2 linked regions of the Homo sapiens genome follow. The gene in region 1 interacts genetically with each later gene. Each region holds a gene or a part of one and is shown in the gene's direction. Other genes may lie near its edges. The genes, in order: PIK3R5 and GNB1.

Evidence for each region.
Region 2: of PIK3R5 (region 1) and GNB1, changing one enhances a phenotype caused by changing the other (phenotypic enhancement), as found in Homo sapiens cells (one study listed by BioGRID).

What each region holds. Positions count from the first base shown.
Region 1 is NC_000017.11:8,889,176-8,892,987, reverse strand, and holds part of PIK3R5 (phosphoinositide 3-kinase regulatory subunit 5), read left to right. Parts: intron 1-1,033; exon of another isoform or gene 1,034-1,200; intron 1,201-2,075; coding exon 2,076-2,250; intron 2,251-2,861; coding exon 2,862-3,015; intron 3,016-3,765; coding exon 3,766-3,812. UniProt on the Homo sapiens protein: Regulatory subunit of the PI3K gamma complex. Required for recruitment of the catalytic subunit to the plasma membrane via interaction with beta-gamma G protein dimers. Required for G protein-mediated activation of PIK3CG.
Region 2 is NC_000001.11:1,789,776-1,793,587, reverse strand, and holds part of GNB1 (guanine nucleotide-binding protein G(I)/G(S)/G(T) subunit beta-1), read left to right. Parts: intron 1-276; coding exon 277-343; intron 344-2,991; coding exon 2,992-3,193; intron 3,194-3,812. UniProt on the Homo sapiens protein: Guanine nucleotide-binding proteins (G proteins) are involved as a modulator or transducer in various transmembrane signaling systems.

The sequences.
Region 1 (3,812 bases):
AAGAAACAAATTTGGCTCCCCAGATGATTTCATTACCCACTCCTGTGTCCTGACCTGCAGTTTGAAAAGCACTAGAGAGGGGGTGCCCATTAGGAGGACCCTCTGCAGGCCTTGAAGAGTTGGGTGCTGTCTCACCTTGACATGTTGGGAGCCCAGGGACCCCGGCCTTCACCACCTCAGAAATTATAGGCCCCCGGCCCTCCTCATTCCCAGCCCCAGGGGTTCACTTCCCACTCACTCCCCTGAGCAACACTTCTTGACTTCCCTCTAGGTGAAAACAAACACAAACAAAATGATAGATGTTGAGACAGAGGGAAAGGATGCTAAAATGTTGTAGTTTAGTAAGTAAATAAGATTCCTCTGGGGGAGCTGGGGCAGGTGGGCTGATGAAGAATCATCAAAGCCCTTTAGACCTTTATTCGGACTCCAGGCACCATCCTAAGCATGGTTACATGTGCTGACTCATTTAATCCTCACGTTAACCCCGTGAGAAAGGGATTTTTCACATAAGGGAAGTGAGGCACCGAGAGATTTGTAGAAAGAGCTTACAGTTGGGAGATGGTCTCACTTTCATTATCTGTAAATTGAGAATGATGATAAATTCTTCGGGAGAGAAATTATGCAAGCTGGTGAGGGCAGGGGCTCGGCTGGGCTCGTTACAAGGTTGTAAGGGGCTGCTTATACAAGCCCACCTCCTTTTTCTTACAGATAGAGAAATCAAAGTGAGTTTCTTCCCAAATGATGGGGACTTTGACAGAGACTAGTCCTGTCTCTGCCCTGTCCCCGGGCACCGACGTCCCCAGAGTGTGGAGGGAATGCTGCCCTGCGTGGTGCTCCTTTGCACTGGGTTTAAACGCAGTGTGGAATTGAGAGAGCAAGAGCTCTCATCACATGCAGCTCATACTAAAGCATTTATGGATACAAAGCCGCCATGGCTCGAATTTGCTTCGAGGTCATGCAGTGATGGAGGGGTTGGCATGGGGGAAGTGAGAACAGCCGTGCGTTGTTAACTGTAAACAGAGTGATCAGCGCCTCAGAGCCCACGATTCTTTTAATTTGGGGTATGTTTGAAAGTTTCCATAGTAGCCGGGCGCGGTGGCTCACGCCTGTGATCCCAGCACTTTGGGAGGCCGACGCGGGTGGATCACGAGGTGAGGAGTTCAAGACCAGCCTGGCTAACACATTGAAACCCTGTCTCTACTAAAAATACAAAAAAAAAAAAAGTTAGCTGGGCGTGGTGGCGGGTGCCTGTAGTCCCAGCTATTTGGGAGGCTGAGGCAGGAGAATGGTGTGAACCCGGGAGGCGGGGCTTGCAGTGAGCTGAGATCGTGCCACTGCACTCCAGCCTGGGTGACAAGAACAAGACTCCGTCTCAAAAAAAAAAAAAAAAGAGAAAGGTTCCATAATAAAGAAATGTAAACACTGGCACCAAGAGGGAATCTGGGTATCCATCGGGAAGGGAGGTAGCAGTGGCCAGGCACACAGTCCCCTCCCAGCCAGTGAAAGCCTGTATCATGGCTTTGGGCTGATTAGAAAAGGTGTCCCTCATAAGCTCAGGAAGAAGATGCACTCTGACTTGGCATCCCCTCCTCCGGGCAGATGCAGCCCCACGGCACGAGGAATTTCATGTCCCGCTCGCCCCAGACCACACTGCACAGCACCACGTTGCTGTCCAGCTCCCCCTGAAAACTGATCGCTTGGCTTCAAGTCACCTTGCCTAAAATATGATCCTCATTTGAGTAATCTTGCATCCACTCAGCTGTCTCATAGGAAAAAACGTTTATATAAAAATTAAGTAAATTTAGTTTTAAAGAATTAAGTTCAATTTTGAAAAGATCTTTGAAAACAACAGCTGAAAAATGCTCAGCAGTGAACCCCACGCTTTCCCCTGGAAACCTGGACCCTGGAGCTGTTGCTTCTGTCCTGGCCTCCTGTGGTCACCTCCTCGAGCTCTGCCTGGGCTTGAGGAGGCCCTGGTCTCAGTGGAGCTGAGCACCAGCAGGCACGAGGGGGGTGGCTGCACTGTGGCATGCTGCGCACCCCTGGGTGCCATAGCCGGTCCCCTGTGTCCCCAGCACCGTGCTGCTGCTGAACCCAGTGGAAGTGCAGGCCGAGTTCCTTGCTGTAGCCAATAAGCTGAGTACGCCCGGACACTCGCCTCACAGTGCCTACACCACCCTGCTCCTGCACGCCTTCCAGGCCACCTTTGGGGCCCACTGTGACGTCCCGGGCCTGCACTGCAGGCTACAGGTATGTACCTGGGGCCTGGGGCTCTGGTGGAGCACCTCTCTGAGGAGGTAGCACCCTCTCCCTGCTTCATCTCAGCCACGGTCTCCAGGGTACACTTAGTCTCCTGCACCCAGGTGACATGGCAGGGTGGTGGCTGGAGGGCTGACCTCATAGAGGGTGTTTCTGGTGTGCTGGATCCTAACCAGCTGGGTGGCAGCCTGGGCAGTAGGACTGGGTGCTGATAACTGGTGCCTCAGAAGATGGCATATGCCATAAGAACGAGAATGAGCTTTGGGCTGAAGACCTGGCATCTAGGCCTGGCTCTGTCACAGGTGTCACAGGTCGGCTGTGTCACCCCACACAGCTCCTTCCCCTCTATGGGGTACAGTGAGGAGCGCTGAAGTCCCTCCTAACTGCAGTGCCGTGGCTCTGGATCTTTCTCTCCTGACCATTTCCTGAGAATGGAAGGGCAGGGAGAGGCCTGGCTGCCTGGCCAGCTGTGGGTAGGAGATGGGTGATGAGGCTGGGAGGGGACAGATCACTGCCTCCCTCAGTAAGAAGCTAGCAACTGGAACAGGTGGACAGCTAGCTCACGGTCCAGGAGCAAAGCCCATCTCCTCCTGGGGTTTCAGGCCAAGACCCTGGCAGAGCTTGAGGACATCTTCACGGAGACCGCAGAGGCACAGGAGCTGGCATCTGGCATCGGGGATGCTGCAGAGGCCCGGCGGTGGCTCAGGACCAAGCTGCAGGCGGTGGGAGAAAAAGCTGGCTTCCCTGGGGTGTTAGGTGAGGCTCTTGGGAGAATGGGGTTCTCCCACATTCCCCATGGCCTATTCTAGGTCCCAAGGTGCACGGTCCAGGCGGGCCTGGTGGCTCTGCTCCACACAGTCACTCAGGGACTCAGCTTCTTCAGCATCTCACTGCTCTGCCATCCCCTAGGGTGTCTCATTCCTGTCTATAGGGGCAGGGTGGGGGTGCTATCATGATGGCAGCTTGTGGGAAGAGGAAAAGAGAGTGCTTACGAGGGCAAAGGCTGGGCTTTTCTGTTGAAGGTGATGCAGAAGCTGGGCACATCACTTCCGCTCATGTTCCTTTGAGCCCGCCTTGGTCACGTGGCCACATCTTGCCCCAAAGGAGCCTGGGAAACATCGTCTCTATGACTCCAGTACCATAGAAGGGAGCACAGACTTTGAGGAACCATTAGCATTCCCTGTTACAATATTCCTCATAAAAACCTTCTGGGCTAGTACTATTATTCTCCCATGGGCACATTGTAAAATGAGGCTCAGAGGTTGTGGTTTGGCCACATTCGCACAGCTCATAAAGGGCATGCCATCTACATGGTGTGCTTGAAAGAAGGGCCTCTGGCTTGGAGCCTGGCACCCTGGCTGTAACTCAGCCTCAGCCTATCCAGCTACATATCCTTGTGCCGATCCTGTCCCATCTCTGGTCTCTTCTCCAAGGCAAGGGGACTGGACTGGCCAATCTCCAAGGCCTCTTCCCAGCCCTCTTCTCCTATCCTCCCTGTTCTTACAGACACTGCAAAACCAGGGAAGCTCCACACCATCCCCATCCCTGTCGCC
Region 2 (3,812 bases), on another chromosome or scaffold:
GTGTATGTTTCATGGGTGTGGTTTCTGCTTCTGCCCCCATCACGGAGCTGTGGGTCTCTGTGGGACGTGCTGTCCTGCCTGGCCAGGCTCTCACCCTCACCAGCAGTGCGTGTGGACCTTCTGCTGTGTGCACAGATGGGAATAAAAGGTCACTAGCATGGTGCTGGTCTTACCTTAGACGTAGAGCTTCCACCGGGCCAATGTGTTTCTCTATGTATGAGGCTGGGTGCAAGGCCTGCTGGATTCAGCTCATCACTTAGGCCTGTTCTTTGCCAGGTTACCTGTCCTGCTGCCGATTCCTGGATGACAATCAGATCGTCACCAGCTCTGGAGACACCACGTGGTAAGTACCTGACCCGGGGCAGGCAGTGCCTTGAGAACCCACAGCCCCTGGCACATTCCTCTGTGAACATGGAGGAAATAAGGTTCTTGACATAATATTAGGCCATCTGTAATTTAAGTGGCCTTAAGATTTAAAACACATAGTAGCAATGTGTGAATTCATTATACTTTTTTTTTTTTTGAGATGGAGTTTTGTTCTTGTCACCCAGGCTGGAGTACAATGGCTCAATCTTGGCTCTGCGACATCTGCCTGCCGGGTTTAAATGATTCTCCTGCCTCATCCTCCTGAATAGCTGGGATTACAGGTGCCCGCCACCACGCCTGACTAATTTTTGTATTTTTAGTAGAGACCAGGTTTCACCACATTGGCCAGGCTGGTCCTGAACTCCTGACCTCAGGTGACCTGCCCACCTCGGCCTCCCAAAGTGCTGGGATTACAGGCGTGAGCCTCCGTGCCTAGCCTCATTATACTTCTAATAAATTTACAAAGTTTAATTTTCAGCAGCTGAGAACTAAAATACACATTTTTTTCTTTTTTTTTTTTTTTTTGAGATAGAGTCTCTCTCTGTCTCCAGGCTAGAGTGGAGTGGCGTGATCTCGGCTCATTGCAACCTCTGCCTCCCAGATTCAAGCAATTCTCCCCTCTCAGCCTCCCGAGTAGCTGGGAACTACAGGTGTGCGCCACCACACCCAGCTAATTTTTGTATTTTCAGTAGAGACGGGATTTCACCACGTTGGCCAGGATGGTCTCTTATCCGTTGACCTCGTGATCTGCCTGCGTCAGCCTCTGAAAGTGCTGGGATTACAGGTGTGAGCCCCCATGCCTGGCCAACATAGATATTTTAACTACAATCAGGCTCAAAGTACCTGCTCTTCTTTTTTTTCCCCTCTATATATTTGTACCTCCTTAGGTGATGATAGGTGGGAGTAGGGTGGGTTTTGATTGTCCCTTTCTGATAGCATCATGTCATTGTGAACAATGAGCACAGACTAAAAATAACAGACGTCACAATTCAAGTGATTCCATCAGACTTCATTTTTAGTGTTTTCACCTTACAGGTAAACGGAAGCCCACTTAAATGCTAGAATTTTTTCATTTGTGGCATCAAAGTACTAAATTAAATGTCCAGATAGTTATTTTATGAGAGTCATTTTAGACTTCAGCTGGCCATGTGGGTTTTTCTGGTCTTCTGAGGCATGATTTGGTGGCAGGAGCTGTGCCCAGCCCAGGGCACAGACCCCTAGTCACGCAGTTGGTGGGGTTCACCGAGACATGGGCCCTTAACCAACTTGTCAGCAAAGCATCTGTGGTATTATAAGGTGTCCTCGTTGTATAAATTTCATAGATTTACAAAAGATTTGTCACCTAGATTGTCAATCTTGAGAAGACTTTATTTATTAGAAGATATTTTTAAAGTGCTTCTGTTCATTAATCATTTTTTTCAGACTCTTTTACGTATCTTGCTTCCCTTCTGCAGTCAGTCCCTCAGGCCCTAGAGAGGAGGCTCCCTGTGCAGTGTCTGTTGAGATTGGCTGATTGGATTTGCATTGCCAGGCCCAGCCAGGCTTTCCTCTGAGGCTGACATGAACGGACAGTGCTCTCTGGTGTTGCCTTCCATGGGTCGAGGCACAGGAGAATAGTATGTTGGTGGGCGTGTGGCCCTCACAGCTGTCCTTACACCTGAGCCAGGCTTCTGCTCTGTGCAGGGCTCTGTCAGCGTCTCACCTTTTGACAGCTTGTTAAGCAGAAATGTGATAGAATACCAGGTATGGCCGGGCGCGGTGGCTCATGCCTGTAATCCCAGCACTTTGGGAGGCCGAGGCGGGCGGATCACCTGAGGTCAGGAGTTCGAGACCAGTCTGACCAATATGGAGAAACCCCGTCTCTACTAAAAATACAAACAAAATTAGCCGGGCATGGTGGCGCATGCCTGTAATCCCAGCTACTGGAGAGGCTGAGGCAGGAGAATCGCTTGAACTCGGGAGGCGGAGGTTGTGGTGAGCCAAGATCGCGCCATTGCACTCCAGCCTGGGCAACAAGAGTGAAATTCGGTCTCAAAAAAAAAAAAAAAATACCAGGTGTGATCACTGAGAACTCAGCTGCTCTCCTGTTTGTGATTCCAGGAAAGGGCAGGAGGACCTCAGAATTGCTGTGAGCCATTTGTTTACCTGGCATTGGCCTTCTCCTGCCTGCCTTTTCTGAGACCCTGTGGAGGGGAGGCCAAGGGAGGGCACAGAGGGAGCAGCCACAGATAGAGTCGCGTCCCCTCCGCCATCCAGGGCCTCCACGTAGCTTCCTGCCACCCCTTCCATGCCCATCCATGACCAAAGAGGGGGCACAGCCTCAGTGGTGCTGCTTGAAAAGTGCCCCCAGCTCCCTGTTTGCTGGCATTTGAGTTGAGGTAGCGATCCCGTCATTCTGAAGCCCAGGCCCTGTGCTCATCTCTGTATAATTTTGCTTGCTTTGCTTTGTTTCCCTTCCAAAGTTGTATTACATTTAAATTTGTCTTTAAACAATTTACGTTTTTAAAGTAACAGTGCAGAGGCTCACTGTGGCCCTGGGTGGTTTGAAGGACAGATTGTCTGTCACATGACTAGCCACCCAAGAAGTTAAGGCTGATGTCCCCTTGTCATTCGCTCCTGCTCCAGTGCCCTGTGGGACATCGAGACCGGCCAGCAGACGACCACGTTTACCGGACACACTGGAGATGTCATGAGCCTTTCTCTTGCTCCTGACACCAGACTGTTCGTCTCTGGTGCTTGTGATGCTTCAGCCAAACTCTGGGATGTGCGAGAAGGCATGTGCCGGCAGACCTTCACTGGCCACGAGTCTGACATCAATGCCATTTGCGTGAGTCTGGGTGGAGGTGTGGGGTCGGGTCCTCTGCCGTCTCTGCTAGCCGTTCAGATTGCTAAATTTTAAACTTTTCTGGATTAGATGTTCTCCTTTCTGATCCTTATACAACCTCATGTACAGATGGGGATACAGAAAACTCCCGATGGGAAACTTCTCTGTGTTGACCACTTGTCTCACAGATACTCACAGGGTGTTGTATGCCAGTCCCCGTTCCCACCTCTACAGCTGAGCAGTGGTTGGGATCCTGGAGGGGAAAGACAGTAAGATAACTCAGGCCACCAGTGGTTACAGAGCCTTACTGGTCAGGGGCACAGCTAACCAGGGAACCTGCCCTCCTCTTTAGCACGCGGATGGCTAGGCAGTGTTTCCAGCCCCTGGCCTTGTGAGGAGACTTAGAAGGATGTATCTGTTGGTTGGACAGAGCTCTGCTGCAGTCCTGACCACAGCCTTGGTCAGCCCGCTTCCCTCCTTCCTCCATGAGATTAGCCCTGATGGCTGGCAGCTACAGCAACATGCACACCTGTCAGTGATGACTACTTTCTCACTATCCTTTGGAATAAATTCTACTCTTTGGGGACAGTAATCACAGTGTCCAAGATCACAGTGTTTGTGT